Linked DNA regions of Homo sapiens: region 2 is linked to region 1. The links come from fine-mapping of genetic effects on gene expression. A gene starts in region 1. The other region holds a variant in brackets. All regions are shown on one strand. Distances are between the middles of the regions.

Region 1 (16,717 bases):
GCCAGAATGTGGGCCCAGGCCATGTTTCCAATATAGACTGGGTTGACTCTGGAGAACTTGCTGAAACTTGACAGGATCCCATGGTTGTTTAGGGCCTCATTTATACCGGCAGAAAGGATTGGGCTTCCTTCCCCATAGATAAACATTGGTCTTAAGGCACAAGTGTACAAGGTGCCACCGTTTTTCAGAGTCCACCCATTAGCCGCCAGCACAGCCTTCTCAGCAAGCTTTTTGCTGTGTGGGTATGGAGCGTACCATGTGTTTTCCAGAGGCTCTTCTTCGTGACTGTTCTGGATGATTTCCTTGTAGGAATTGGGCCCGGCTACCTCTGGGGTACTGGTGTAGATGAAGACTGGCACTGTAGCTTGGACACAGGCCTCCAACAGAAGCTGGGTACCTACCAACGAAAAGCATTCTGTCAGTGTCAGGAAATATCCCTAAGGGGCCCCAACCACGTGCACATATCTCCACTCCCAAGTGCAGTGGTTATAACAGACTCAGGTACATTCTTTTGTGGCTCTGACTGAGACTGGGCCATGCTACAGCCATAGGAAAAACACCAAAATGAAAAGAAACTGACATATGGATTCTGGAGAGCAAGAATTTCTAGACTTTTGGGTGTTTGGATGTGTGTGTGTGTTTTTGTGTGTGTGTGTGTGTGTGTAGTTTAATTTTGGCAAAGGACCTAGGGTTATCACTTTATATTTTGCCAAGTAAGGATGTTGAAAATTATAATGTGACATCAATACCATTAAAGGCAGATTATTGAAAAACTAAAAAATCAGGAAGATATACTCTGAGAATATGGACAGTCCTGGTTCTTTGGCAAAAAAGGGCAGTAGAAGAATTTACATCACACACACAGACACCCATATACAGTTGTATATAAGCAATATACACTCTTAAATATACTGTTGAATATACATGCAATTGCTGGTATTTTTCTCATTTTGAGTGGACTGGTAAAACTTTGTCACCAGGACCATTCCTGGAGTCATTGAGCGAACAGTGGCTTGTGGGGAGATGCTGGAAACCCACACTCTTTTCCTGATTGTGCATTCCCTGGGAAAGCTGCTTCCAATTCTGGCTGTGACTCTGTTTACCTGGTTATGTAAAGTCGGGGTGATAAACCTTCCTTTAAACCCTGCCCTGGCGTTTCCTGTGGAGCCTGGTGGAGGACTGGGGAGAGGAGTGTGCCCTCTGCTGGTAACACCTGTACTGGGAGGACCTTGCCGCCTCCCCTGAGCTGTGTGGAAGTGTAGCTCATGGAGGTGTTCGGAGTGCCTTCCCTTGAAGAAGGAAGGAATTTCCTAGGCAAAGGATTATTATTTTTTCTTATTTTTTTTTATTCTTGGCCCTGTTTAAAGTCTCTGTGGAATTTGAGTTTCTGGAGAGACAGCCTCATGTTTTCAACAATTAATCTGGTGGCAGAGAAAATGCGGAAGTAGTTTACCTTCAAGGGGGAAATGACCAACATTGTGAAATATTTTCTAAGTCTTGGAGTGATAATGGTTTAGGAAACAGATGCCTCTAACACTTCCCCTGTCATTTTACCTTTCTTGTTGTTGGGAGCTGTGGAGAGTTAATAATTCAAATGAAACACTGGTTACTCTTAACACCCTCCTCACACTGTAGAGGTACTTAAAGGTATGCGTAAGTAGAAACTGGAAAGGTTTTTTTTTTTTGAGATGGTGCTGGAGACCCAAAAGCAATTAGTTGCTTTAGAAAAGGTGTCAGAGTAGACTGAATGTGGAGGGCTAGGCCAGTGGTGGGGTGCTGTGGTGCTGAAGAGACTGGGCTCTGGGAATCAGAGGGTGAGACTGCATGACGAGATTCCTTAAGGGAATGTGTCTGAATTTAAAGTAGTTTGGAAAGCTGCAATTCGGAAAGACCACCAAGACTTTAAGGGATGAGGATTGAATGAAGGTGCATGTTGGACACCTGGCTGGGAATGGCTCTGTAATAGCAGGCCCTGTGGCGAGCTGAAGAGACTGTGTATTCTGGACACTGGGAAACCCTTTTTCTTAAGAAAATATTGTGAGAAAGCATGTGCTGGATAATTCAGTCCTGACAGACCTCTGTGGACCAACTTTACTAATTCTCTCGAGAGAACTTCTTTGAGGTGGGCAGGAGGGCTCTGAATGTTCTTGATATGGGAGTGCTGGGAAGGGAAGAGCATGGTCCCTTTAAATGATATGGGAGGGGGGAAGGGAAGTGCTGGGTGAAGGAGGGTGTGGTCCCTGGCTATGGCTCTACTCCCAGGGACCTAGATGAGGACAAACATTTTCTGCCCAAATGTTGCATTTCCCAAGACCACCCTGGCCTGCCATGCCCCAATTCTCTGCCTATAAAACCCCCAAGACCCTAGCAGGACACACACAAACTGCCTGACAATGAGAGGAGCAGATTGGCAGAAGAAGATAGAAGGGGCTGGATGTCAGGAGGGGCACATCAGTGGAGGCACACATCAGCAGAGGAACACATGGGCAGCTGGACGTTGGGAGGAACACACCGCCCAGCAGAATGATGTGGAGTTTCCCTGGGATGGTCGGAGAAGAGTTGGGCAGTTGAACGGCCAACTCCATGGGAAAACCCTCCCCTTCTGGCATCCCCCAGCTGCTGAGAGCTACCTTCACTCAACAAAACCTGGCACTCATTCTCCAAGCCCAGGTGTGATCTAATTTCTCTGGTAACCAAAACAAGAACCCAGGATACAGAAAGCCCTCTGACCTTCCGACAAGGTAGAGGGTCTAATTTAGCTGGTTAAAACAAGCCGCCTGTAGATGTCAAAACTAAAAGAGCAAGACTAAAAGAGCACCATGTAACACACACCCACTGAGGCTTCAGGAGCTGTAAACATTCACCCCAGACACTGCTATGGTGTCGGAGTCCCACAGCCTGCCTGTCTCTATGCTCCCACAGAGGTTTGAGCAGTGAGGCATTGAAGAAGCAAGCCACACCCTCATTGCATGCCTGGTGAGGGGGATGAGGGAATTTTTCCCATTTCATTATCATAAGCCTACGCACAAGGTGACTTGTGTGTAGCACAATGATGACTATGGTGGCACCTGGAAGGTTTGATTCTGTCCCATAGAGGGATATCAAGAGTCTGAAGTTGGAATTTAGTTGACTTTTGATTGAAGCCACTATAGAAAGAGTGTCCACAGCCTTTGGAGTCACACAGGGGTGAGTTTAAAGTCTAACTCTCCTATTTACTTACTTACCTGGGGGGGCCTTGGACAAGTTACTTGCCATCTGTAGCACTGGTTTCCTCATGTAAAAAACTGAAGATAGCAGCTTTGAACTCCCCCAGTTGGTAGTGATCAGCAAAGACACTTGGTCCAGAGCATAGCAGGTGTTCAGTGGAGAGACTTCTTTTCCCTTCCTGTCCTTCTTTGTGATCCTTAATTCCCCACCTTGCTTCATCTCCTCCCCAGGCTACTGTACGTTTCACATTGATGTTCATGATGGACTCTCTGTGAGTGACACCGATGATGTCTATGATGGAGGTGGTGTGGATGATGACCGACATGTCCTGGCAGGCTCTCTTCAGGCATGACTCATCCAGAATGTCTCCTTCCAGCACCGTCAGCTTGGTCTTGTTCTGGAGCTCTGTGTGAACACCGGTCAGGTTATCAGAACGATTTCTGAAACGATTTCTGAAACTGATAAAGATGTTGTTACATAGATGTTCGAGGATGGCTAGAGTCAGGGTGTTGGAGTGGAGGGTGTACATTCCATGGAAGGAACAAGTAAACAGGGACACAGAAGTCAGAATATGTAGCAATTTATTGGGAAAGAGCAAACATCTGTTTCTACCCCATCTCATTTAAGAAAAGTAATCTGAGCAATGAGCTGTCAGGTGTGCTTGGAATATAAGCATTTCTAGAGTCATGGGAGACTCACTAAAATATTTAAAGAGAGTAAGGTGACTGTGGAGAGTTGGGTATAAGAGGGAAAATTTGAATTTAATTCTGCTGGTGATGCGGGATCATGATTTTGGGTCTCCAGCACCATGTCAAAGAAAATCCCTTATTTATATTTGGAATAAGTAGAGAAACAGGCAGAGCATGGTGGCTGACACCTGTAATTCCAGCACTTTGGGAGGCTGAGGTGGGCAGATTGCTTGCACCCAGGAGGTCAAGACCAGCCTGGACAGCCTCGTGAAACCCCGTCTCTACTAAAAACACAAAAATTAGCCAGGCGTAGTGGTGCTTGCCCATAGTCCCAGCTGTTCGGGAGGCTGAAGCAGGAGGATGAATGGGGCCCAGGAGGTGAAGGTGGCAGTGAGCAGAGATCATACCTCTGCACTCCAGCCTTGGTGGCACAGCCAAACCCTGTTAATAAAAAAAGAGAGACAGAGAAACAGAAGCAGAATTGTAATGTAGGAAGTCAACATTGGCTTGAGGATATAAAATGGACTGGTATAGGGGATATGAGAAAGTAAGGTAATTAAGATATTAATCAGAGTATCTGTGCCAAAGTTTCGATGAGGACTGGAAGCAGGGTCCAGCAGTGGAAGCAGAGCAGGGGAGAGATAAAACAGGTTTGAATTTCAGACCTTACCTTGAAGGTCCTGATACCTACTGGATCTGGGCTGAGAGAAAAAGAAGACAAAATCACCCCTATGGTTTCCTCCTTGGGCAATTGGGAGGAGAGTGGAGCCATTACTAGGGAATTGCTGATGGGCTTAAATGAGGAATTTCCATGAAAAACTCATCAGATTTGAAAAGCAGATAGCAATGCTGAAAGTTAGCGACCAATGAACTGATATTCCAGCTGTCTAGCTGAGGGCAGTGGTTAAAACTTTAATGTCTTCACGCTCCTCTGAAATCCACAAGAAGTGATGCTGCCAGTAAAGTTGTCACCTGGAATTAGCCCACGCAATGAACACTGTGGTACATGAAGCTTGGATAAATACACTACACTTGTTTGTGCTTTATAATCTGCATATGACTCACAGCTTGCTTATTTCCTTTTACAGCAATCTCATGAGATAGGTTTTCTGAGTCCCACTTTACTGGTGAGGAAACTGAGGTTCAGAGAGGTTAAGGGACAGATCAAAGGTCGCGTTTCTAGTAGAGGCTCAAACTTGCCCACTCCACCTCCAAGCCTCGTACCCTGCACACCAGGTACAGGACTGGCTGTTTAGAATAAACTTTTCTGAGAAAGAGTAAGAATAAGCCAGTTCAACTGAAATTGGCAACAAAGGCCAAAGAACAGTGAGAGTAAAATTCAGAGCGAAAAATTCAAGACCGGAGCAATTCCTTCCTGGGATACAGGCGGGACCACTTCCTCTCCTAATGCCTCTGCCATGTTTTGTCTACTCCCAGCCCCTTCCTATTGCCAGGCAACTCCAAGAAGGCCATGCTATGGGGGAGGCAGGGAAGAGGCTGCTGGGGAGGACATGGGTGACAGCCTGAGAGTGGAATTTTCTCTGGTTGTATTTCCACCTCTGCACTTCCTGCTCCCTTCCTCTGCTTCCCCTTTGCTGCCAACTTCAGACAGACTGGCTCAAAGGAATTGCCATTTCAAAGCTGAAGAAGTCTAAAGCCAAGAGAAAAGGCTTTTCCTTAATGAGTTCACAGGGATCTAGAGACCAGGAAAGGGGACTTTGTGGATGGAGCCATAGCTCCCTCATTCCCCAAGCTGCTAGGTGAACTACTGCTTAAGAGCACAGATGCCGCACTAGACTGTCTGGGTTCAAATCCAGCTTTGCCATATTCTAACTCTGAGACTTTCAACGAGTTAATTAACCTCTCTATGTCTGTCTCCTAATCTGTGAGAAAGGAGGATAATAATATTAACAATCTCATAGGGTTGCTATGAGTAACAAATGAGTCAGCACATGCAAAACATGTAGCACAGTGCCTGGCACAGAAAGAACACTGAAAGGATTCTCTGTTTTTATCTTTATACAGGCTACTGCCCATCCATTATATCCCCTACCTTTTCACCATAGGAGAACTATTCCTCTAGGCTGAGCGTTGCTTTTTTTCTGGTATTAGGTGTTAGATTGCAAATATTGGTGACACATAAGGATTACAAACATTTCATCTTGGTCTTGTGTTAGTATTTGTTTATGAAAGACACCATTAAAACAGAGGGTGGAGGAAATTGGAAGAGGTCAGAAAAGAGCAAAAGAAGAGCAGAATTTTGGGTGTGGTGGTCCCTGAGTGCTGTCAAGTAGGGGCTTCTCTGAGGGCAGGGCATGACTCTTTGCACAGCCAGAGCCCAGGTGTAGACACACAGTTCACCCACCCCCTGGGTTGGGGAGGAGGACAGGGAATTGGGCACCCAGAGAGGCAAAGGGAGAGACTGAAGACCCACTTTGCCAAGGATCAGCTCCAGAGTAAAGTGATGATGCTTCTGGATGAAGCTCTGGTCTGAGGTCTGCTACACATTAACCAGATGGTCTTAGCAAGTTGTTTTATGTTTCTGGATCTTGATAGTTCATTGTCCAGTTGGATATGACTCCTTTTCTACTTTCCTCATGGAGTTATTTGCACAAGAAGTTGCTACAGCAAATTCTGCAATTTCTTGGGGGTATTGAGCAACAGAAGCAAATGGTTAAAAAATAAAGCCATAAATGAAAAATCGAAAAGAGGGATATCCGGCCTTATACTGCCTCTTACTCTGTCTCTGCTCTGTGCTGTGCACTTGTGCATGCTCTCTCTCTCTCACTGATGCTGTCTCTTTCTCCTATCCTCTCCCTCTCTCTCTCACTCTTTCTCATGCATTCTTTCTCTTTCTCATTCTCTCTCTCTGATTTTCTCTCCCCCTCATTTTCTCTCTCTTTTGCTCTCTCTCTCTCACACACACAAACACACACACTTACACACTCATCTATAACTTCACTTCCTTTTATTTTGCCTTCACCAAAGGTGCCAAGGTTGCTACAAAACAAAACAAAGCTCAGGGAAGTCTAGAGAGGCAGGGACCCACTGGTGAGGTCTTCAGGTAAATGGTGTCCTTTGTGAATGTTGCAAAGCAATTGCCGAGACAAAAAGCTTCAGAACTTAAAATAGTTGCAGACAAGAAAAATAACTGATGTGGGATTTTCTAGATGAGAAGAAAAGGGGGCTGGTGTCCAAAGTGGTTGCCTCTCAAGTTCTGGGTCAGGGACAGAATCCAGTCTCTGGATAGCCCATCCAGAATCTTTCACACTATGCCATTTTATACTATTTAATTTTCTTTTCTTTCTTTTTTTTTAAGACTATCGATGTGAGATTGGCTTAGATTTGACTACTGTTCTCTGTAACTTGCTAGAAAAGGTCCACCTTCCTGCACCCATGCAGTGTCTAAAATGGAACCACACACCCATGAATCAAGTTTACTTACCAGAAAATTCCTTCCTCAATTCCGGTCTGAAGGCCTTGTCCAAGGCCCTGATCTCCTTCAGCTCCTTCTCCTCCACCAAGAGGCGGATGATACTCTAACCCAGAAACCCTCCTGCTCCTGTCACAAGGCAGCTCCAGCCTGTCATGGCCAATCCAAAGTAGCAGACAACACACTCCAGGAAACAGAAGATGCTGGGGAGCAGATCTGATTCTAGGGTGACCCTGGAGAGGGCTAAAAAAAGAGATCAAATGGTTATATACTCACACAGATGTCTTATTTTCCTCTACCCCATTTTTTTTGCAAAAATTCCATGTCTCCACCATTGCCAGGAGTAGCTGAAAGAAAATGAAGAAGCTCTTACTGTTAGATTGTTAAAGCTGGACAAAAGAGTCAGGGTGCTTGTCACTTCATCCCCTAAGGGAGCCCTGGGCCTTTATGCTCCGTGGCTTCTGACTTGCCCCTTATCCCCTTGAACTCCTGCCACATACTCATTTCTCCTGCCTCCTCCAGCATCCCTTTTCTCAGAAGAATAGTGACCTTTAGTCTATATCTCTAATTCTTCCCAGGAACAGGAAGAGAAGTCCAATTCTAAGGCAGCAATGCAGTAAAGAGTCTTAGGTTTAGCCTTAACAGGACACTGGTCAGTTGATACCAGATATCGGGGATCCGCAATCTGTGATCTTAAACTAGGCTGAGAGAAATCTCCAAGTGTAATGTGAACTTTGCTTTTGTGCAGTAAATATGTTTGGAAGGAAATCCACATTAGCTCGTTATCTCCTCTCTCTGAGTGTCATTTGAAATGTTGCTGCTGTCTTGCAAAGTTTAGAAATTTGCAATGGTGACAGCTCCAATCACTAAGTTTTACGGAGGTGACTTACTTACCTATTCAATATATCCAAAACCTCAATTGCAATTTTCCCCCAGAGAGCTCTGGGTTCCTAGATGAAGAACACCATTGAAGGAAAGCTATCTAGTGTTAACCATTTAATGATATGGCCTGTACCACAGGAGTGGGGATTTGTGGTTGTATGCTCCAATGACTCTTATCATAGATGTTTGAACTTTTCCCATATTTTTGGGTACAAAACCATTCTCAGCAAATTTCTGAAGATGCTGTGAATGCTCCTTGAGCGTATACCTGAGAACTGCCCAAATTTCACCACCATAAGCTCTCCAAGATACTTTCCTCTACTTAAAAAAATCGAGGCCAGGCGCAGTGGCTCATGCCTGTAATCCCAGCACTTTGGGAGGCCGAGGCAGGCAGATCATGAATTCAGGAGATCAACACCACCCTGGCTAACACGGTGAAACCCCATCTCTACTAAAAATACAAAAACTTAGCTGGGCCTGGTGGTGGGCGCCTGTAGTCCCAGCTACTCAGGAGGCTGAGGCAGGAGAATGGCGTGAACCCTGGAGGCGGAGCTTGCAGTGAGCTGAGATTGCGCCACTGCACTCCAGCCTGGGCGACACAGTGAGACTCCGTCTCAAAAAAGAAAAAAAAAAAAAATCCAGGTGTAATCAGGTGTAATTTATATTCACTAAAATGCCCAGAGCTCGTGTTTAGTTTGATGAACCTTGACAGTTATGTATGCCCATGTAAGTAGCACCCAAAAAATGTATTGGTCATTTCCTTCACTGCAGAAAGTTCTTTTCTGCCTGTTCTTAGTTAATTCCCTCCCCTGCCCCCAATTTACCCTGGTAGGCAGCTACTTTCTGATTTTTATTCCCACAGAATTTTCATTTTATTCCTATATTTTCTTAATTTATTCTTCTAAGATCTCTGTGGTTCTGGATATATATTTAAATATAAAATCATTCTGAACTGAAGTTTTGTTCATGGAGTACAGAAGGATTGACCATTGATTGTCTCTATTGTTTGTTCATTTTTCTATTTCATGATTTTCTTTGTTTTTATTATCAGCTTATGTTTATTAACTTGGGGGTTGTTTTACTCCTTTTTTTCAGGGTTCTTATTATAAAAGCATATATAATTGACTTTAGTCCTTTGCTCATTTCCACTACAGGCATTTAAAGTTGTAAGTTTCTCTCTAAGCACTGTGTCAGCTGCAGCCAACATTTTGATGCATCGGGTTATCATCACTCAGTTAATGATGTTTTGAATTTTTTCTTGTGAGTTCGTCTTTGACCCAAGTGACCGATACCAACAGAGTATGTAGCTTGTTTTCTGAAATTGGGAATCTTCTAGATATCTTATTGTTTTGAATTTCTAATTAAATACTACTGTGGCCATAGCATATACTCTGTATGATTTTGATCCTTGTGTATATATTGAGACTTGTTTTATGGTGCAGCAAAAGGTCTGTGTTGGTGAACATCCCATAAACACTTGAAACGAATGCTTTCTGCAGTTGTTGGAAGTAATATTCTACAAATGATTTGCTTTGAAACCCCACTCTAGGTCTTGCCCTCCTCCCATGTTGAAAACATTCAACTGCTACTTGGGACCTGACTACCAATGCTTCAAACCCACTTGCCTAGAAAAGGTTGGCCCTGTGCTGCAAGATGTAGCAGCTTGTTCTCCGATAGCTACAGGCCCTGGGTCTTGCTGAGACATGTGGAGCACTATCTGAACCACCCAGGTGCATCACACACCTTTGCCTGCTATAGCACATGCTAGAGTGCACCTTACAGATCCCATCACCTTTCGGATGGGGCCAGACATTCCCTATGCTGTTGAGAGTTCTGGAGGCTGATAGATTTCAGCCAGTGTCTCTTGGAGTCTCTGAGTGGAACCGATAAATAAAAGCCCTAAAGAAAGTGAGAAATTAAACAAAGGGCAAGACTGATGGGGGCCACACTACTAAATTTCTTTTGTTTTTAAACAGCTTTACTGAGGTATAATTGACATAACATTCGCTTGTTTTAAGTGTGCAGTTAAATTATTTTCAGTAAAATTTTAGACTTGTGTGACCATCACCATGATCCTGTTTTGCAACATTTCTATCATTCCTAAGAAATCCCCTATGTTCATCAGTCACCACCACTTTTTCCCAGTCCCCAGCTCCAGGCAACCTCTAATTGACTTTCTGACTCTACAGATTTGCCTTTTCTGGAGACCATATAAATGAAATCATGCAATATGTGGTCTTTTGTATCTGTCTTCTTTCATTTACTTTAATATACTTTTATGGTTCATGTATGTGGCAGCACATATCAATATTTTAATCCTGTTAGGGGACAAATCCTATTAAATTGTATGGATAGCTCCCATTAGTTTATTCATTTATCAGTTGATACATATTTGAGTGTTTCTACTTTATGGACAATTATGGATAAAGTTGCTATGAATATTCACATTCATGTGTTGTGTGGACATAGGTTTTTTTCTTCTGGGTAGATAGCTAGAAGTGATAGTGCTAGGTCATATGGTAAATATATCTTCAACATTTTAAGATACTGCCAAACTGGTTTCCAACGTGACTGCATGTCCCATCAACAATGCGTGAGTGTTTTAGTTTTTCCACGTCATTATTTCACTTCCCCCAGGTGTTACTGTCCTTTTTTATTATAGCATTCTAGTGGGTAAGAAGTGGTGTCTCACTGTAGTTTTGATTTGCATGTCCCTGCTGACTGATGATGCTGACCATCTTTTCATGTATTTTATTGTCTATTCCTACACCTTTTTGATGAAATGGTTATTCAAATATTTTGCCTATTTTAAAATTGGGTTATTTATCTTTTTGTTGCGTAGTTGTAAGTGTATTTCATATTCTGGATATGAGTCCTGTATTAAATATATGATTTGAATTTTTTTTCTCAGTCTCTGGTTTATCTCTTCATTTTCTTATTGGTGGCTTTTAAATGCCAACATTTTTAGTTTTGATCCTGTTTCATTTTTCAACTATTTTTTAACCAGGAAAAGTTGGGTTTTTGCCTAATTCAAGATCATGAATATAATAATCTATGTTTTCTTCTAAGAGGTGTATAGTTTAGCCCTTAAATTTAGGCCTTTATTTTATTTTGAGGGAAGTTTTGCCTATGTGTGGGTTAATGGCCTAAATTCATATGGCCAATTGATTTTGACAATAGCAAATTCAATAGGGAAAAAGATTGTCTTTTAAACAAGTGACACTGAGACAACTGAATTGTCCACATGCTCAGGGAATGTCAGCCTGCTATGTCAAGTGGTGCCCACCCGAGTCACCACCTATTGACATCAGAGTGTGTGAAGAATTTCTCAATATGATAACTATGGGTTAAATAATATGCTGTAGCTTTCTGCTCCTCCCATTCGACAGATAGCCGCATCTTCTTGTGCAGCGCCAGCCGCATCCCTGAGACACCATGGTAAGGGTGAAGGCCAGAGTCAATGGATTTGGCCCCATTGGTTGCCTGGTTACCAAGGCTACTTATAACTGGTAAAGTGGATATTGTCACCATCAATGACCCCTTCATAGTCTACAAATTCCATACTACATGGTCTATGTATTCCAGTATGATTCCACCCGTGGTGAATTCCATGGCACCGTAAAGGCTGAGAACAGGAAGCTTGTCATCAATGGAAATCCCACCACGATCTTCCAAAAGCTAAATCCCACCAAAATCAAATAGGACAATGCTGGCACCAAGTACATCATAGACTCCAGTGTCGTCTTCACTACCATGGAGAAGTGTGTGGCTCATTTGTAGGGGCCAGTTAAATGGATCATCATCTCTAACCCCTCTGCTGACAGCCCCATGTTTGTGATGGGTATGAACCATGAGAAATATAACAACAGCCTCAAGATCATCAACAGTGTTTCTTGTACCACCAACTGCTTAGCATCTCTGGCCAAGATCATCCATGACAACTCCGATTTAGTGGAAGGACTCATGACCACAGTAAATGCTATGATTGCCACCCAGAAGACTGTGGACGGCCCCTCTGTGAAACTGTGGCATGACAGCTGCAGGGCTCAAAGGAACATCATCCTTGCATCTACTGGCACTCTCAAGGCTGTGGGCAAGTATATCAATGAGCTGCATGGGAAGATCACTAGCATGGCATTCCAGGTCCCCACCACGAACATGTTGGTCATGAACCTGACCTGCCCTCAGGAAAAGCATGCCAAATATGATAACATCAAGCAGGTGGTGAAGCAGCATCAGAAGGCCCCCATAAGGGCATCCTGTGCAACACTGAGAACCAGGTTGCCTCCTCCAGCTTAACCATTGACACCCACTCTTCCACCTTCAATCCTGGGACTGGCATTGCCCTCAGTGACCACTTTGTTAAGCTCATTTTCTCATATGATAATGAATTTGGGTACAGCAACAGGATGGTGAACCTCATGGCTCACATAGCCTCCAAGGAGTAAGACCTCTGGGCCACCAGCCCCGCGAGAGCATGAGAGGAAAAGAGAGGCCCTCAGCTGCTGGGGAGTCCCTGCCACACTCAGTCCCCCACCACACTGAGATTCTCCCCTCCATGCAGTTTCCATGCAGACCCCCTGAAGAGGGAGGGGCCTAGGGAACCCCACCTTGTCGTGTACCACCAATAAAGTCCCCTGTCTATGCTCAGAAAAAAAAAAGCGGTATTAGGAAAGCTCACAAAGATTACTGATCAGCAAAAAAATAGACAGCATGATTTCTCCATCCTCCTATTTAATACTGATGCATAAATGGTCAGGAAATGCTGGGCTCACAATGGGAGTCTGCATTCCAGTGTAGGAACAATAGTCTCCCTTGTTATAATTTTTTATCATGTGAGCACAAGGATACAGCTTTATCAGTGGAGGAACACACAGGCTGTTGGTGTGAAACAGTCTAGATTTAGGTTCCAGATGTTCACAAGATTGTCTGGAAAAATCACCTGCCTAGCATCTAGAGTCCTTGGGGCTCATGCAAAGGGTTTCCCTTTTTTTAGGGGAGAAAGCCACCCATTTTGCAGGGAGCTGTACTAGGCACAGTCTCTCATGCTGGGAAAAGGAAAATCCCTCTTCTTGGCCAGCTTACTAAACTCCTGGCTTATTTTAGGATAATTACACCCCTTGTGCTTGAGTCCTAGAGAGGTCATGAGTAGCATAGAATAAGTTTTAAAGGCACATGACTAGACGAAATAAGTTATAAGAATATTCATGGATAATAGGGAAAGTTTCCGGACTGAATCCTGGAATACACATATCAATATTTACAAGTTGAACAGAGAAGGAGGGGCCAGCTAAATATGCTGAGTAGGAGTTGGTGGCAGGAGGGAGAAAAATTACAAGGAGATGGCCTTGTAAAAGTCAAGTTGAAGAAAGTGTTTCAAGAAGAGTTTGGTTCACTATGTTGGATGCTGCTGATCAAATGCAATAGGAAAATAATTGATTATTGATTTTGGCAACATTGTAAGTAATTTGGTAAGAGCAATTTCCACAAATAGTTGGGTTGAAAGTTCAACTGGAAAGTCCAACACACAATTCATTTGTGTGTTGAGGAATAGAAGAAAAATGTGAAGAGAGCGACTCTTAAAAACAACACCTGTTCAAGAAGTTGTGCCATGAAGATCTCAGTAAAAAGGTGTTACAGCCAGTGGAGTGAAGAGTTTGTTTTTGTTGTGTTGTCTTAAACTGGACTACTCCTTTATTGATCCTTAGCACCTTGTACAGAGCAAATGTTCAAACATTGTTGAGTGTTTGACTAAATAAAGTGTTTATGTCTCATACATCGTTTTATTACCATAAGAATTTGCACAACATCTGACACATCATAGGAACTTAATACATGCTTATTGAATAAAGAAATGGAAGGATGAGTGAACAATCAAGACTCTAGAATGTCTTAGTGCTTCTGAAAGTTAGTGCTTATAGACTAATACAAAGAAGGAAATAGAAGAGAACAGTGACCACAAAAATGAAAATACTAGAAAGTTTCCCATAGTAATGAGAGGCTGGAATCATTGCCCAGGCCAAAGCTGTTTGCCAAGGAGAAGCAATTTTCTTCTCATCTATAGCACGGATATGAGTAGGATCCTAGGTATTTGAAGTGTACTTGAAGAGCCAGTTTTCAGAAGTAAAGAACAATGGGCCATCCCCTCCACCATACAGGGAGAACTAGGGCCAGAGCTTTTGGGTTATATGAGCTCAACTTGGCTGTCTTTCCAGGCAAGACCTTCAAAGTGAGAAAGGAGGAGGCTTTAGCAAAATGTCTTTTTTATTTCTTACTGAATTCTGTTTGTCAGTTATTTTTGGGGGAGATCACATAGATGTCACTCAACCATTTCCTCTGGAGTCTGACAATGATGGTATGGTAGCCAGCCTCTAAGTTGAATCCAGTGATCTCTGCTTCCTGGTATTCATTCCCTTGTGTGTGTGCTGAACCTAGTAACTTGCTTTTAATCAGTATAATTGGACCAAAATGATGGAATATTACTTCCATGATTAGGTTAGAAAAGATTGTGACTTCCATCTTGTTTTACACTTCCTCTTTCTCATTGGGCTGGATGAAGCAACCTGCCATGCTGGACAGGACAATATAGTAATGAACTGAGGGCAGCCAACAGTCAAAGGGGAACTGAGGTTCCCAGTCCAATATGCTTCGAGGAAGTGAATTTTCCAACAACTATGAAAGTGAGCTTGAAAGTAGATATTTCCCCAGTTGAGTCCTCAGATGAAACTGGAACTTTGTGCCAGTCAAGTCAAGAGCTCTTGGAACTCCAATGTTTAAGAAGAAAATAGGTAGACTGACATATTTTTAACAAGCTGCTTTCTTTTCTTGGGGATTTCTCTTGCATTACAAAGAACATTAGCCCTTCATTAAACTCAGTTTGAAAACCACAAGTGGTTTAGCAAATATTAGATTCACTGAAGTTACTAAGTGTTGGTGAAGATGTGGGGAGACAGGTGTGTTATCCGTGGAAGTGTAAGTTTATGCAAATTTCTGGTGAGTATCTGACAAAATATTTTAAATTTTCACACACTTGACCCATCCATACGAGTCCACTCCAGATATTTATTTTAAGGAATAATCAGTTGAAATCAGACCAAGATGTCATATGGCACATCTCCTTGCACAAAGAAAGCTCTGCATATGAGCTCTAATATATTAATTGAGCCCTTTACTATGTATCAGGTGCTTTACGTATGTTATCTCATTTAGTTTTTAAAATGGACTTTATTTTCTATGATAGTTTTAGCTTCACAACAAAGTTGAGGGCAAGTGCAGACAGTTCTCATATACTCCCACTCCCACACATACACAGACTCCCCATCTATCACCATTCTGCACCACATGGTACATTTATTACAATCATTGATCTGCATTGACACATCTTTATCACTCAAAGTTCACAGTTTACTCTTGGTCTTGCACATTCTTAGTTTTGACCAATGTATTCTGATATATAACCACCATTTTAGTGTCATCTGCCCTAAAAATCTGCTTCTGTCTGTCAATCCCTCTGTGCACCCTGACTCTGACAGGGTCAGATAGTTGGAATCACACTGTATGTAGCCTGTTCATGTCGACTTCTTGCATTTAGTAATATACATTTAAGCTTCCTCCATGTCTTTTCATGGCTTGATAGCACTTTTTTTTCTTTTAGCACTGAATAATATTTCATTATCCATTGAACTATTGAAGGACAAATTGGCTGCTTCCAGGTTTTGATAATCATGAATAAAACTGCTATAAAGATCTAACCTAGAAGTAGGTTTTTGTGTGGATGTAAGTTTCCAATTTATTTGTGTAAATACAGTGAAGCATAATTGCTGGATTATATGGTAAGAATATGTTTAGTTTTATAAGAAACTGTCAAACTGCCTTACAAGTGTCGGTACCATTTTGCATCCCCACCAGCAATGGATGAGCATTCCTGATGCTCCACATTCTTGCTAGCATTAGTTGTCAGTGTTAAGGATTTTCACCATTCTAATGGGTGTGCAGTGGTATCTCATTTTTGTGTTAGGTTGCAATTCTCTAATGACATATGATGTTGAGTATCTTTTCATACGCTTTCTTATAATTTATATATCTTATTTGGTGGGTGTCTGTTCATGTCTGTTGCCTATATTTGTATCAGATTGCATTCCACGTGTAAGACATTTTTAGGAGTTAAGAGATTCCTTCTGAGATTTCGTATGCATCTCTTCAGTTTACTGTGGACATTCCTTTTCCCATATTTCTAAGCAATGGAGAACAGCCTTTTGGTAGTATCTTGATAAGATTCTTGCTCATTTCCCTTGGAATTTTTGATGTAGCCCCTGAGCCAGATGCAACTTAAAAAATTACACACATTTGTGTCCAGGAGCACAGTTATCACCAGGTAGATGCATACAAAGAGAGCTTCTACTACCTTTTCTTGTAAAGTAAGCTAATGTCGTTGTCTGTATACCAAATTGCTTTAATACCATATGCTCATGTGATTTGTTTTACTCTTACCCCAAACCAATCTCTA
Region 2 (16,717 bases), 31 kb after region 1:
GCATCTATTGAGATAATCATGTGGTTTTTGTTGTTGGTTCTGTTTATGTGATGGATTACGAATATTGATTTGTGTATGTTGAACCAGCCTTGCATCCCAGGGATGAAGCCTACTTGATCATGGTGGGTAAGCTTTTTAATGTGCTGCTGCATTCGGTTTGCCAGTATTTTACTGAGGATTTTCACATTGATGTTCATCAGGGATATTGGCCTAAAATTCTATTTTTTTGTTGTGTCTCTACCAGGCTTTGGTATCAGGATGATGCTAGCCTCATAAAATGAGTTAGGGAGGGTTCCCTCTTTTTCTTTTGATTGAAATAGTTTCAGAAGGAATGGTACCAGCTCCTCTGTACCTCTAGTAGAATTCGGCTGTGAATCCATCTGGTCCTGGACTTTTTTTGGTTGCTAGCCTATTAATTATTGCCTCAATTTCAGAACCTGTTATTGGTCTATTCAGAGATTCAACTTCTTCCTGGTTTAGTCTTGGGAAGATGTATGTGTCTAGGAATTTATCCATTTCTTCTAGATTTTCTAGTTTATTTGCATAGAAGTGTTTATAATATTCTCTGATGGTAGTTTGTATTTCTGTGGGATCGGTGGTGATATCCCCTTTATCATTTTTTATTGCATCTATTTGATTCTTCTCTCTTTTCTTTTTTATTAGTTTTCCTAGTAGTCTATCTTTTTTGTTGATCTTTTCAAAAAAACAGCTCTTGGATTCATTGATTTTTTTTTTTTTTTTTTTTTTTTGAGACGGAGTCTCGCTCTGTCGCCCAGGCTGGAGTGCAGTGGCGGGATCTCGGCTCACTGCAAGCTCCGCCTCCCGGGTTCACGCCATTCTCCTGCCTCAGCCTCCCAAGTAGCTGGGACTACAGGCGCCCGCCACTACGCCCGGCTAATTTTTTGTATTTTTAGTAGAGACGGGGTTTCACCGTTTTAGCCGGGATGGTCTCAATCTCCTGACCTCGTGTTCCGCCTGCCTCGGCCTCCCAAAGTGCTGGGATTACAGGCATGAGCCACCGCGCCCGGCCTTCATTGATTTTTTTGAAAGTTTTTTTGTGTCTCTATCTTCTTCAGTTCTGCTCTGATCTTAGTTATTTCTTGTCTTCTGCTAGCTTTTGAATTTGTTTGCTCTTGCTTCTCTAGTTCTTTTAATTGTGATGTTAGGGTGTCGACTTAAGATATTTCCTGCTTTCTCTTGTGGGCATTTAGTGCTATAAATTTCCCTCTACACACTGTTTTAAATGTGTCCCAGAGATTCTGGTACATTGTGTCTTTGTTTTCATTGGTTTCAAAGAAGATTTTTATTTCTGCCTTCATTTCGTTATTTACCCAGTAGTCATTCAGGAGCAGGTTGTTCAGTTTCCATGTAGTTGTGCAGTTTTGAGTGAGTTTCTTAATCCTGAGTTCTAATTTGTTTGCACTGTGGTCTGAGAGACAGTTTGTTGTGATTTCTGTTCTTTTACATTTGCTGAGGAGTGTTTTACTTCCAATTATGTGGTCAATTTTAGAATAAGTGTGATGTGGTGCTGAGAAGAATGTATATTCTGCTGATTTGGAGTGTAGAGTTCTGTAGATGTCTATTAGGTCTGCTTGGTGCAGAGCTGAGTTCAAGTCCTGGATATCCTTGTTAATCTTCTGTCTCACTGATCTGTCTAATATTGACAGTGGGGTATTAAAATGTCCCATTATTATTGTGTGGGAATCTAAGTCTGTTTTGTAGGTCTCTAAGGACTTGCTTTATGAATCTGGGTGCTCCTGTATTAGGTGCATATTTATTTAAGATAGTTAGCTCTTCTTGGCGAACTGATCCCTTACCATTATGTAGTGGCCTTCTTTGTCTTTTTTGATTTTTGTTGGTTTAAAGTCTGTTTTATCAGAGACTAGGAGATTGCATTCCCTGCTTTTTTTTTGCTTACTATTTGCTTGGTAGATCTTCCTCCATCCCTTTATTTTGAGCCTGTGTGTGTCTTTGCACGTGAGATGGGTATCCTGAATACAGCACACTGATGGGTCTTGATTCTTTATCCAATTTGCCAGTCTGTGTCTTTTAATTGGGGCATTTAGGCCATTTACATTTAAGGTTATTATTATGTTTGAATTTGATCCTGTCATTATGATGTTAGCTGATTATTTTGCCCATTAATTGATGCAGTTTCTTCATAGCGTCGATGGTCTTTACCATTTGGCATGTTTTTGCCGTGGCTGGTTTTGCAGTGGTTGTTCCTTTCCATGTTTAGTGCTTCCTTCAGGAGCCTTGTAAGGCAGGCCTGGTGGTGACAAAATCTCTCAGCATTTGTTTGTCTCTAAAGGATTTTATTTCTCCTTCACTTATGAAGCTTAGTTTGGCTGAATATGAGTTTCTGGGTTGAAAATTCTTTTCTTTAAGAATGTCGAATATTGGCCCCCACTCTCTTCTGGCCTGCAGGTTTTCTGCCGAGAGATCCGCTGTTAGTCTGATGGTCTTCCCTTTGTGGGTAACTGAACCTTTCTCTCTGGCTGCCCTTAACATTTTTTCCTTCATTTCAACCTTGGTGAATCTGGCAATTATGTGTCTTGGGGTTGCCCTTCTCGAGGAGTATCTTTGTGGTGTTCTCTGTATTTCCTGAATTTGAATGTTTTCCCGCCTTGCTAGGTTGGGGAAGTTCTCCTGAATAATATCCTCAAGAGTGTTTTCTAACTTGGTTCCATTCTCCCTGTCACTTTCAGGTGCACCAAACAAATGTAGATTTGGTCTTTGCATATAGTGCCATATTTCTTGGAGGCTTCGTTCATTTCTTTTCACTCTTTTTTCTCTAATCTTGTCTTCTCACTTTATTTCATTAGTTTGATCTTCAATCACTGATACCCTTTCTTCCACTTGATTGAATCAGCTGTTGAATCTTATGCATGTGTCACAAAGTTCTCGTGCTGTGGTTTTGAGCTCCATCAGGTCATTTAATGTCTTCTCTACACTGTTTATTCTAGTTAGCAATTCGTCTAACCTTTTTTCAAGGCTTTTAGCTTCCTTGCAATGGGTTAGAACATGCTCCTTTAGCGCGGAGAAGTTTGTTATTACCGAAGGTCTGACGCCTGCTTCTGTCAACTCCTCAAAGTCATTCTCCGTCCAGTTTTGTTCCCTTGCTGGTGAGGAGCTGCGATCCTTTGGAGGAGAAGAGGCACTCTTTTTTGGAATTTTCAGCTTTTCTGCTCTGGTTTCTCCCCATCTTTGTGATTTTATCTACCTTTGGTCTTTGATGTTGATGACTGTGACCTATGGATGGGGTTTTGGTGTGGACGTCCTTTTTTTTGATGTTGATGCTCTTCCTTTCTGTTTGTTAGTTTTCCTTCTAACAGTCAGACCCCTCAGCTGCAGGTCTGTTGGAGTTTGCTGGATATCCACTCCAGACCCTGTTTGGCTGGGTATCAATAGTGGAGGCTGCAGAGCAGCAAGTATTGCCACCTGATCCTTCTTCTGGAAGCTTTGTCCCAGAGGGGCACCCACCTGTTTAAGGTGTCTGTCAGCCCCTACTGGGAGGTGTTTTCCAGTCAGGCTACATGGGGGTCATGGACCTGCTAGAAGAGGCAGTCTGTCTGTTCTCGGATCTGGAATGCCGTGCTGAGAGAACCACTGCTCTCTTCAGAGCTGTCAGACAGGGACATTTAAGTCTGCAGAAGCTGTCTGCTGCCTTTTGTTCTACTGTGTCCTTCCCTCAGAGGTGGAAGCTATAGAGGCAGTAGGCCTTGCTAAGCTGCAGTGGGTTCCACCTAGTTCATGCTTCCCAGCCTCTTTCTTTACACTGTGAGCTACTCAAGCCTCAGCAATGGCAGACGCCCCTCCCCCCCATCAAGCTACAGCATTGCCAGTCTATCTCAGACTGCTGCAGTAGCAGTGAGCAAGGCTCCCTGGGCGTGGGACCCACTGAGCCAGGCAAAGGAGGTTATCTCCTGGTCTGCTGGTTGCTAAGACTGTGGAAAAAGCACAGTATTTGGTCAGGAGTGTACCTTTTCTCCAGGCAAGCCTGTCACAGCTTCCCTTGGCAGGAAAGGGAAATCCCCCAACCCCTTGTGCTTCCTGGATGAGGCAATGCCCCACTCTGCTTCAGCTCGCCCTCTGTGGGCTGCACCCACAGTCCAACCAGTCCCAATGAGATGAACCAGGTACCTCAGTTGGAAATGCAGAAATCACCCATCTTCGGCATCAATCTCTCTGAGAGCTGCAGATCGGAGCTGTTCCTATTCGGCCATCTTGGAAGTGACCACTGGGTGTTGCATTTTTCACCTTACCCCACTGCCTGGGGCCACTCCCCCCTGACGCTGGTGATGATCATCTGTTCCTTGGGCTTTTGAAGATGGTGGTAACCTGTTCATCTGGGCCAGAATGTGGTTCCCTTTTCTCTTCAGAATGAACACTGAAACTAACTCCATTGTGGTAATCAAATTCAACTGAGTAATGATCTGTTAATTTCCTGTGTAAGAAAAAAGCCATCTTGATGTTGGGTGTGACTCTCATCATGGCTGTGATACACAAAGGTCCAGAGGGAGACAGCTTCCACCCCACACTCTGGACCCATAGCAACCTCCTCACCTGCTTCAGTTCAACTCTGTCCCTGATGCCCCTGACAGTGTTTCTTTTGAGTGTGTTTTCATTGATTGGTTAATGACTATGTCATCACTGAAGTCCCCAAACTTGTCTTGATTGGCCTCCTCTCTTCAGGGAAATTGAGAAGAATGAGAGAACCAGTGATTAAAGAGGAGATGGAGAGAAGAAAGAGGCTAAGGATATGGAAGAATAAAGGAAGAAAGGATATGATTTAGAGAAGAGAAGGAGAAAGAAGAGAGAGACAGTTAAATCTGGGGATGTGGGATAGTAGACTTCTAATTTTGGGCTGAGTAGAAGGTATATTTTGGAGGAAGTTCACACTTGTTTTTTGTACTTGTCCAGGAACCCATGGTGTGGCTCATTGTGTGATTTGAAAGGGTGAAATGCAGGGTTATGTATGATCAGAATGGCCAACACACATATAGCCAGGAGTGTTCTAGAGACCTTCAAATAAATTGACACTGAAGCGGGTGGAGGCCTGATGCATTTTTGTTTCTCTCTGCCCTGCTCAGGCCCATTAGGAAAGGCATGCAAACCCTTTCAGATGCCCCTCAGGGATTATCCTTGGTTCTAGAGATTCCCCTGTACCAGATTGGGCAAGAAAGAGGTAACCCCAAAAAGCTGGGGCTCTCCCAAGTATCAGCATCCCATGCTCCAGTGCTCTGCTGTACCACTGATAAGACCAGTTCAGGCTGCATGATTCTAGGGAAAGATAAAGTCTTTCAAGACCAACTTCCTGGTAGCAGGCCTAGCCACTAATCATTAGTGTGATGGTGAACAAGTTTCCTTAAGGGTAAAATGGGAATAGTCACCCCCACGTGATAGGTTTCTGATAAGTATTGAGTGAGGGAATATATGTCACATGTAGGTCATGTTGTAGATGCCTGAAACATAGTAGAGCTTATTCAGTCTTCATCGCCCTTCCAGATCCTCCCACTACTCTGCCAACCCCCCTTCCCCAGCTCCATGCTACTCTCCTAGGTAAAAGATGGTGATACCTGGAAATGAAAAGAAAAGGAGGGAACTAGGTATTAACAGAAACTACACCTCCCTCCAGGTTAAGGATTAAAACATTTATTGCTCTTTACATTGGACTGCGTGAAGAAATAGGAGATTTAAAAGAAAAGAAATCCTTTCTCATTTAAGAGTAGAAATGGAGCTCTAGTAGTTAAAAATGACCTCAAGTTAGAAGAGACTACAATTGTTCGGAATCAGCCACTGAGATATGGAAAAAGCAAATCACATTGTCTTTCCTCTGGTATATGATTAGGACAAAAAGCTTCTGGTTGGGCCAGGGACTGGGCAGGTTTTGATGACATGAGGAAGACAATAAGTTGGCTATTATGTGAAAGGGAGGCAGCAGGACCTGGACTTTTGCCCTTGTCACCTGTATGAAGCCAGGAGGATGGAGCTTGACGACATCTCCTAACAATACCCACATGCACATCTCTGTCATCCTTCGATCACTGAGTCTTGGACTTCAGGGTCTCCTTGTGCCAGTCCACAAGGGAACCAACCCACTCCATGGTTTTCTGCTTGGCTTCCTCCCAGCTGTAAAGTGACTTATATGCCAGATCTTGCTGAGCCTTCTTGTAAGAGAAGGTGAACACGCTATTTGACAATGTCACTCTGTGGTGGTTGAAGGGCGGTCGACAGGTGTAAACTGGCCTCGGCAGGAAGCTCACTATTTCCAGCAGGAAGCCAATCCAGTACGTCAGGGATAAAGGCAGGCTCCAACTGGAATCAAGGCAGAGGCCGAACTCTTTGCTCAAGGTGTAACTAAGGTTATCATAGCTTTGGTGAGGCGTGTCATCTGAGATATAGTAGAACTGTCCTCGGACACTTGGGGCCTTCTTGGGCTCCCGCAGGGCCCTCAAGGCCAGAATGTGGGCCCAGGCTATGTTGCCAACATAGACTGGGTTGACTCTGGAGAACTTGCTGAAACTTGACAGGATTCCATGGTTGTTTAGGGCCTCATTTATACCGGCAGAAAGGATTGGGCTTCCTTCCCCATAGATAAACATTGGTCTTACGGCACAAGTGTACAAGGTGCCACCGTTTTTCAGAGTCAGCCCATTAGCCGCCAGCACAGCCTTCTCAGCAAGCTTTTTGCTGTGTGGGTATGGAGCGTACCATGTGTTTTCCAGAGGCTCTTCTTCATGACCGTTCTGAATGATTTCCTTGTAGGAATTGGGCCTGGCTACCTCTAGGGTACTGGTGTAGATGAAGATTGGCACTGTAGCTTGGACACAGGCCTCCAACAGAAGCTGGGTACCTACCTACGAAAAGCATTCTGTCAGTGTCAGGAAATATAACTAAGGGGCCCCAACAACGTGCATAGATATTTATTCCCAAGTGCAGTGGTTATAACAGACTCGGGGTATATTCTTATGTGACTCTGACTGAGACTGGGCCATGCTACAGCCATAGGAAAAACACCAAAATGAAAAGAAACTGACATGTGGGTTCTGGGGAGCAAGAATTTCTAGACTTTTGGGTATATGGATGTGTGTGTCTGTGTGTGTGTGTGTATATACTGTAATTTTGGCAAAGGACCTAGAATTATCACTTTATATTCTGTCAAGTAATGATGTTGAAAAATTACAATGTGACATCAATACCATTAATGGCAGATTATTGAAAAACTAACAAATCAGGAAGATATACTCTGAGAATATGGACAGTCCCAGTCCTTAGGCAGAAAAGGGCACTGGAAGAATTTATGTCACACACACACCCATACACAATTGTATATAAGCAATATACACTCTGAAATGTACTCTTAAATATACATATAATTGCTGGTATTTTTCTCATTTTGAGTGGACTGGTAAAACTTTGTCACCAGGACCATTCCTGGAGTCATTGAGCGAACAGTGGCTTGTGGGGAGATGCTGGAAACCCACACTCTTTTCCTGATTGTGCATTCCCTGGGAAAGCTGCTTCCAATTCTGGCTGTGACTCTGTTTACCTGGTTATGTAAAGTCGGGGTGATAAACCTTCCTTTAAACCCTGCCCTGGCGTTTCCTGTGGAGCCTGGTGGAGGACTGGGGAGAGGAGTGTGCCCTCTGCTGGTAACACCTGTACTGGGAGGACCTTGCCGCCTCCCCTGAGCTGTGTGGAAGCGAAGCTCATGGAGGTGTTCGGAGTGCCTTCCCTTGAAGAAGGAAGGAATTTCCTAGGCAAAGGATTATTATTTTTTCTTATTTTTTTATTCTTGGCCCTGTTTAAAGTCTCTGTGGAATTTGAGTTTCTGGAGAGACAGCCTCATGTTTTCAACAATTAATCTGGTGGCAGAGAAAATGCGGAAGTAGTTTACCTTCAAGGGGGAAATGACCAACATTGTGAAATATTTTCTAAG[C/T]CTTGGAGTGATAATGGTTAGGAAACAGATGCCTCTAACACTTCCCCTGTCATTTCACATTTCTTGTTGTTGGGAGCTGCGGAGAGTTAACAATTCAAATGAAAAACTGGTTACTCTTAACACCCTCCTTGCACTGTAGGGGTACTGAAAGAAATGAGCGAGTAGAAACTGGAAAGGTTTTTTTCTTTCTGTTTCCTTCCTTCCTCTCTTTCTTTCTTTCTTTCTTCCTTCCTTCCTTCCTTCTTTCCTTCCTTCCTTCTTTCCTTTCTTTCTCTTTCTTCTTTCTTTCTTTCTTTCTTTCTTTCTTTCTTTCTTTCTTTCTTTCTTTCTTTCTTCTCTTTTTTTTTTGGTACTGGAGACTCAAAAGCAATTAGTTGCATGAGAAAAGGCATCAGAGTAGACTGAATGTGGAGGGCCAGGCCTGTGGTTGGGTGCTATGGTGCTGAAGAGACTGGACTCTGGGAATCAGAGGGTGAGACTGCATGACGAGATTCCTTAAGGGAATGTGTCTGAATTTAAAGTAGTTTGGGAAGCTGCAATTCGGAAAGACCACCAAGCTTTTAAGGGACGAGGATTGAATGAAGGTGCACTTTGGGCACCTAGTTTGAAATGGTTCTGTAATAGCAGGCCCTTTGGTGAGCTGAAGAGATCATATTCTGCATACTGGGAAACTCTTTTTGTTAAGAAAATATTGTGAGAAAGCATGTGCTGGATAATTCTGTCCTGACAGACCTCTGAGAACCAGCTTTGCTAGTTCTCTCAAGAGAACTTCTTTGAGGTGGGCAGGAGGGCTTTGAATGTTCTTGATATGGGAGTGCTGGGAAGGGAAGAGTGTGGTCCCTTTAAATGATATGAGAGCGGGGAAGGGAAGTGCTGGGTGAAGGAGGGTGTGGTTTCTGGCTAGGGCTGCACCCTCAGGGACCTAGATGAGGACAAGCATTTTCTGCCCAAATGTTGCATTTCCCAAGACCACCCTGGCCTGCCATGCTCCCATTCTCTGCCTATAAAACCCCCCAATACCCTAGCAGGCACATGCACAAGCTGCTGGACATTGAGAGGAGCAGATTGGCAGAAGAAGACAGAAGGGGCTGGATGTCAGGAAGGGCACATCAGTGGAGGCACACATCAGCAGAGGAACACATCAGCAAAGGAATACACGGGCAGCTGGACTTTGGGAGGAACATACCCATGGGCAAAATGATGTGGAGTTTGTCTGGGGTGGTTGGAGAAGAGTTGGGTCATTGAGCAACCGACTCCAGGGGAAAACCCTCCCCTTCTGGCATCCCCCAGCTGCTGAGAGCTACCTCCACTCAAAATAACCTTGTACTCATTCTCCAAGCCCAGGTGTGATCCAATTCTTCCGGTAACCAAAGCAAGAACCCAGGATACAGAAAGCCCTCTGACCTTCCAACAAGGTAGAGGGTCTAATTTAGCTGGTTAAAACAAGCCGCCTATAGATGTCAAAACTAAAAGAGCAAGACTAAAAGAGCACCATGTAACACACACCCACTGGGGCTTCAGGAGCTGTACAATTCACCCCAGACACTGCCATGGTGTCGGAGTCCCACAGCCTGCCTGCCTGTATGCTCCCATAGAGGTTTCAGCAGTGAGGCACTGAAGAAGCAAGCCACACCCCCATTGCATGCTTGGTGAGGGGGGTGAGGGAATTTTTCCCATTTCATTATTATAAGCCTACACACAAGGTTTAAAATGATGACTATGGTGGCACCTGGAAGGTTTGATTCTGTCCCATAGAGGCAAAGAGTGGCTGAATATCAAGAGTCTGAAGTTGGAGTTTAGTTGACTTTTGACTGGAGCCACAATAGAGTGTCCACAGCCTTTGGAGTCACACAGGGGTGAGTTTAAAGTCTAATTCTCCTACTTACTTACTTACCTGGGGGGCCTTGGACAAGTTACTTGCCATCTGTAGCACTGGTTTCCTCATGTAAAAAACTGAAGATAGCAGCTTTGAACTCCCCCAGTTGGTAGTGATCAGCAAAGACACTTGGTCCAGAGCATAGCAGGTGTTCAGTGGAGAGACTTCTTTTCCCTTCCTGTCCTTCTTTGTGATCCTTAATTCCCCACCTTGCTTCATCTCCTCCCCAGGCTACTGTACCTTTCACATTGACATTCATGATGGACTCTGTGAGTGACACCGATGACATATATGATAGAGGCAGTGTGGATGATGACCGACATGTCCTGGCAGGCTCTCTTCAGGAATGGCTCATCCAGAATGTCTCCTTCCAGCACTGTCAGCTTGGTCTTGTTCTGGAGCTCTGTGTGAACACGGGACAGGTTATCGGAATGGTTTCTGAAACTGGCTTGGAAGTTTCCTGATAAAGATGTTGTTGCATAGGTGTTTGAGGATGGCTAGAGTCAGGGTGTTGGAGTGGAGGGTGTACATTCCATGGAAGGAACAAATAAACAGAGACACAGAAGTCAGAATGTGTAGCAATTTATTGGGAAAGAGCAAACATCTGTTTCTACCCCATCTCATTTCAGAAATGTAATCTGAGCAATGAGCTGTCAGGTGTGCTTGGAATATAAGCACTGCTAGGGTCATGGAAAGCCCATCAAAATTTTTAAAAGGAGTAGAGTGATTGTGGAGAGTTGGGTATAAGAGGGAAAATTTGAATTTAATTCTGCTGGTGATGCGGGATCATGATTTTGGGTCTCCAGCACCATATCAGAGAAACCCCTTATTTATATTTGGAATAAGTAGAGAAACAGGCAGAGCATGGTGGCTCACACCTGTAATTCCATCATTTTGGGAGGCTGAGGTGGGCAGATTGCTTGCACCCAGGAGGTCAAGATCAGCCTGGACAACCTCATGAAACCCCATCTCTACTAAAAATACAAAAATTAGCCAGGCGTATTGGTGCATGCCCATAGTCCTGGCTGCTTGGAAGGCTGAAGCAGGAGGATGAATGGGGCCCAGGAGGTGAAGGTGGCAGTGAGCAGAGATCATGCCTTTGCATGCCAGCCTTGGTGGCATAGCCAAACCTTGTTTCAAAAAAAAAAAAAAAAAAAAGAGAGAGAGAAACAGAAGCAGAATTGTGAAGTAGGAAGTCAACATTGGCTTGAGGATATAAAATGGACTGGTATAGGGGATATGAGAAAGTAAGGTAATTAAGATATTAATCAGAGTATCTGTGCCAAAGTTTCGATGAGGACTGGAAGCAGGGTCCAGCAGTGGAAGCAGAGCAGGGGAGAGATAAAACAGGTTTGAATTTCAGACCTTACCTTGAAGGTCCTGGTACCTATTGGATCTGGGCTGAGAGAAAAAGAAGACAAAATCACCCCTATGGTTTCCTGCTTGGGAAATTGGGAGGAGAGTGGAGCCATTACTAGGGAACTGTGGATGGGCATAAATGAGGAATGTCCATGAAAAACTCTTATCAGATATCAAAAGCAGATAGCAATGCTGAAAGTTAGTGACCAATGAACTGATATTCCAGCTGTCTAGCCAAGGGCAGTGGTTACAACTTTAATGTCTTCACGCTCCTCTGAAATCCACAAGACATTACGCGGACAGTAAAGTTGTCACCTGGAATTAGCCCACGCAATGAAAACCGTGGTACCTGGAGCTTGGATAAATACTCTACACTTGTTTGTGCTTTATAATCTGCATATGACTCACAGCTTGCTTATTTCATTTTACAACAATCTCATGAGACAGGTTTTCTGAGTCCCACTTTATTGTGAGGAAACTGAGGATCAGAGAGGTTAAGGGACAGATCTAAGGTCACGTTTCTAGTGGAGACTCAAACTTGCCCACCCCACCTCTAAGTGTTGTACTCTGTACACCGGGTACAGGCCTAGCTGTTTAGAATAAACTTTTCTGAGAAAGAGTAAGAATAAACCAGGTCAACTGAAATTGGCAACAAAGGCCAAAGAACAGTGAGAGTAAAATTCAGAGCGAAAAATTCAAGACCGGAGCAATTCCTTCCAGGGGTTCAGACAGGACCATTTACTCTCCTAATGCCTTTGCCATGTTTTGTCTACTCCCAGCCCCTTCCTATTGCCAGGCACCTCCAAGGAGGCCCTGCAGTTTGGGGAGGCAGGGAAGAGGCTGCTGGGGAGGATGCGGGTAACAGCCTGAGAGTGGAATTTTCTCTGGTTGTATTTCCACCTCTGCACTTCCTGCTCCCTTCCTCTGCTTCCCCTTTGCTGCCAACTTCAGACAGGCTGGCAGAAAGGAATTGCCATTTCAAAGCAGAAGAAGTCTAAAGCCAAGAGAAAAGGCTTTTCCTCAATGAGTTCACAGGGATCTAGAGAGACCAGGAAAAGGGACTTTGTGGTGGAGCCATAGTTCCCTCCTTCCTCAAGCTGCTAGACTAACTACTGCTTAAGAGCACAGATGCTGCACTAGACTGTCTGGGTTCAAATCCAGCTTTGCAATATTCTAACTCTGGGACCTTCGGTGAGTTAATTAACCTCTCTGTGTCTGTCTCCTGATCTGTAAGAAAGGAGGATAATAATATTAACAATCTCATAGGGTTGCTATGAGTAACAAATGAGTCAGCACATGCAAAACATGTAGCACAGTGCCTGGCACAGAAAGAACACTGAAAGGATTCTTTGTTTTTATCTTCATACAGGCCACTGCCTATCCATTATATTCCCTGCCTTTTCACCATAAGGAACAATTCCTCTAGGCTGAGAATTGCTTTTTTCTGGTATTACGTGTTAGATTGTAAATACTGGTGACACATAAGGATTACAAACATTTAATCTTGTTTTGTGTTAATATTTGTTTATGAAAGACACCATTAAAACAGAGGGTGGAGGAAATCGGAAGAGGTCAGAGAAGAGCAAAAGAGGAACAGTGTGTTGGGTGTGGTCCCTGAGTGCTATCAAGTAGAGGCTTCTCTGAGGGCAGGTCATGACTCTCTACACAGCCAGAGCCCACATGTAGACACACAGTACCCTGGGTTGGGGAGGAGGACAGGGAATTGGGCACCCAGGGAGGCAAAGGGAGAGACTGAAGACCCACTTTGCCAAGCATCAGCTCCAGAGTCAAGTGAGGAAGCCTCTGGAGGAAGCTCTGGTCTGAGCTGTGCTACACATTAATTAGATGGTCTCGGCAAGTTGCTTTATGTTTCTGGACTTTGATGGTTCATTGTTCAGTTGGATGCAACCCCTTTTCTACCTTCCTCATGGGGTTATTTGCACAAGGATCTGCTACACCGAATTCTGCAATTTCTTGGCTATTGAGCAACAGAGACAAATGGTTAAAAAATAAAGCCATATATGAAAAATCGAAATGAGGCATATCTGGCCTCATACTGCCTCTTGCCATCTCTGTTCTGTGCTGTGTGCCTGTGCACGGGCTCTCTCTATCACTGATGCTCTCTTTCTCTCTCACTCTTTCTCATGCATTCTCTGTCTTTCTCATTCTCTCTGATTTTCTCTCCCCCCTCATTTTCTCTCTCTGTTTCGCTTTCTGGCACACACACACACTTACACACTCTCCTATACATTCACTTCCTTTTATTTTGCCTTCACTAAAGATGCCAAGGTTGCTACAAAACAAAAAGCTCAGGGCAGTCTAGAAAGGCAGGGACCCACTGGTGAGGTCTCCAGGTAAATGGTGTCCTTTATAAATGTTGCAAAGCAATTGCCAAGACAAAAAGCTTCAGAACATAAAAACGTTGTAGACAAGAAAAATAACTGATGTGGGATTTTCTAGATGAGAAGTAAAGGGGTCTGGTGTCCAAAGTGGCTGCCTCTCAAGTTCTGGGTCAGGGCCAGAATCCAGTCTCTGGACACCCCGTCCAGTGTCTTTCACATGATGCCATTTATACTATTTAATATTCTTTTTATGATGATTGTGAATGTGGGATTGGCTTAGATTTGACTACAACTTTCTGTAACTTGCTAGAAAAGGTTCACCTTCCTGCACCCATGCAGGGTTTAAAATGGAGCCACACATCCATGAATCAAGTTTACTTACCAGAAAATTCCTCCCTCAGCTTTGGTCTGAAGGCCTTGTCCAAGGCCCTGATCTCCTTCAGCTCCTTCTCCTCCACCAAGAGGCGGATGATCCTCTAACCCAGAAACCCTCCTGCTCCTGTCACAAGGCAGCTCCAGCCTGTCATTGCCAATCCAATATTGCAGGAAACACTCGCCAGGAAACAGAAGATGCTGGGGAGCAGATCTGATTCTAGATTGACCCTGGAGAGGGCTGAAAACGAGATCAAATGGTTATATACTCACACAAATGCTTTATTTTCCTCCACCCCATTTTTTTTGGCAAAAATTCCATGTCTTCACCATTGCCAGAAGTAGCTAAAAGAAAATAAAGAAACTCCAACTGTTAGATTATTAAAAAGCTGGATAGAAGAGTCAGAGTGCTGGTCACTTCATCCCCTAAGGTAGCCCTGGAGTTCTATGTTCTGTGGCTCCTGGCTTTCCCCTTATCACTTTGAACTCCTGCCACATACTCATTGCTCCTGTCTCTTCCAGTATGCCTTTTCTCAGAAGAAAAGTGACCTTTAATGTATATCTCTAATTCTTCCCAGGAACAGGAAGAGAAGTCCAATTGTAAGGCTGTAGTGTGGTAAAGGGTCTTAGGTTTAGCCTTAACAGGACACTAGTTGGTTGATTCCAGTTGTCTGGGATCTGCAATCTGTGATCTTAAACTAGACTGAGAGAAATCTCCAAGTGTAATGTGAACTTTGCCTTTGTGCAGTAAATATGTTTGGAGGGAAATCCACATGAGCCCATTCTCTCCTCTCTCAGAGTGTCATTTGAAATGCTGCTGCAGTCTTGCAAAGTTTAGAAATTTGTAATGGTGACAGCTCCAATTACTGTTTTATGGAGTTGACTTTCTTTCCCACTCAATATATCCAAAACCTCAGTTGCCATTTTACCCTGGAGAGCTCTGGGTTCCTAGATGAAGAACATCATTGAAGGAAGGCTGTCTAGTGATAGCCACTTAATTATATGGCCTGTACTGTTGCTGTCAGTTACTACGGCATGAACGAAGGGGGTCAAATGTAGAAAGGAAGACAAAGACAAAAGGATATGTTTTAAAACAAGAGGTCAGGGGGCTCCTTGCTTCTAGTGAGCAAAGGCAGCTCTGAGCTTCTAAAGCCCTTTGTATTTATGAGGTAGAAAGAGCAGGTAGGGAGAGATAATGGTTGGTCAGCTGCTTGATTTATCACAGGTACACATAATTGCTTTCTTTATACAACAGCTTCAGAGGTTCCTATAGATAATCACAAGGAACACTGCACTGGGGGTGTGACGGCCTTCAGCACCCCTTCTGGCAGCAGACATAGTTTGTCAGTTTTAAAACGTCCTGCTTTCATGAGAACAGTTTTCTGTTTGCTCAAATAGCCTCCAGTGGTATACTGAGTTGGTCACGACCCTCATTCTTTTTGGCCTGTAACACTGTACCACAAGAGTGGGGATTTGTGGTTGTATGCCCCAATGACTCTTATCATAGATGTTTGAACTTTTCCCATATTTTTGGGTACAAAACCATTCTCAGCAAATTTCTGAACTGAAGATGTTGTGAATGCTCCTTGAGCCTATGCCAGAGAACTGCCCAAATTTCACCACCATAAGCTCTCCAAGACACTTTCCTCTATCTAAAAAAAGAGGTGTAATTTATATTCATTAACATGCCCAGATCTCAAGTGTTCAGTTCAATGAACATTGACAGTTATATATGTCCATGTAAGTAGCAACCCAAAAATGTATAGGTCATTTTCGTCACTGCAGACAGTTCTTTTCTGCCTGTTATTGGCTAATTCCCTGCCCTACTCCCAATCTACCTGGTAGGCAACTACTTTCTGATTTTTATTCCCACAGAATTCTTATTTTATCCCTATATTTTCTTATTTATTCTTCTAAGATCTCTGTGGTTCTGGATATATATTTAAATATAAAATCATTCTGAAATGAATTTTTGTGCATGGAGTACAGAAGGATTGACCATTGATTGTCTCTATTGTTTGTTCATTTTTCTATTTCATGATTTTCTTTGTTTTTATTATCAGCTTATGTTTATTAACTTGGGGGTTGTTTTACTCCTTTTTTTCAGGGTTCTTATTATAAAAGCATATATAATTGACTTTAGTCCTTTGCTCATTTCCACTACAGGCATTTAAAGTTGTAAGTTTCTCTCTAAGCACTGTGTCAGCTGCAGCCAACATTTTGATGCATCGGGTTATCATCACTCAGTTAATGATGTTTTGAATTTTTTCTTGTGAGTTCGTCTTTGACCCAAGTGACCGATACCAACAGAGTATGTAGCTTGTTTTCTGAAATTGGGAATCTTCTAGATATCTTATTGTTTTGAATTTCTAATTAAATACTACTGTGGCCATAGCATATACTCTGTATGATTTTGATCCTTGTGTATATATTGAGACTTGTTTTATGGTGCAGCATATGGTCTGTGTTGGTGAACATCCCATAAACACTTGAAACGAATGCTTTCTGCAGTTGTTGGAAGTAATATTCTACAAATGATTTGCTTTGAAACCCCACTCTAGGTCTTGCCCTCCTCCCATGTTGAAAACATTCAACTGCTACTTGGGACCTGACTACCAATGCTTCAAACCCACTTGCCTAGAAAAGGTTGGCCCTGTGCTGCAAGATGTAGCAGCTTGTTCTCTGATAGCTACAGGCCCTGGGTCTTGCTGAGACATGTGGAGCACTATCTGAACCACCCAGGTGCATCACACACCTTTGCCTGCTATAGCACATGCTAGAGTGCACCTTACAGATCCCATCACCTTTCAGATGGGGCCAGACATT

Alleles and levels. Positions count from the first base shown, and alleles are read on the strand shown. Sizes are in standard deviations (SD) of each study's normalised expression.
With allele T in place of C in region 2, the expression in neutrophils of the gene that starts at base 9,535 in region 1 is lower (large effect, 0.86 SD a copy in BLUEPRINT).

The links.
Region 2: its variant is fine-mapped to the expression of LINC00622 in neutrophils (BLUEPRINT, PIP 0.95).

Annotation. Positions count from the first base shown.
Region 1 is chr1:119,592,109-119,608,825 of GRCh38, reverse strand. LINC00622 (long intergenic non-protein coding RNA 622) reads left to right here and starts at 9,535. Exons shown (of 1, transcript NR_036540.1): 1 at 9,535-11,124. It also overlaps the pseudogene GAPDHP33 and the pseudogene HSD3BP5. RefSeq lists an enhancer at 2,914-4,113.
Region 2 is chr1:119,561,395-119,578,111 of GRCh38, reverse strand. It overlaps the pseudogene HSD3BP4. Among named protein-coding and RNA genes, the nearest start is that of LINC00622, 30 kb to the left of the region's middle. The variant C/T (reference allele first, on the strand shown) is at 7,943.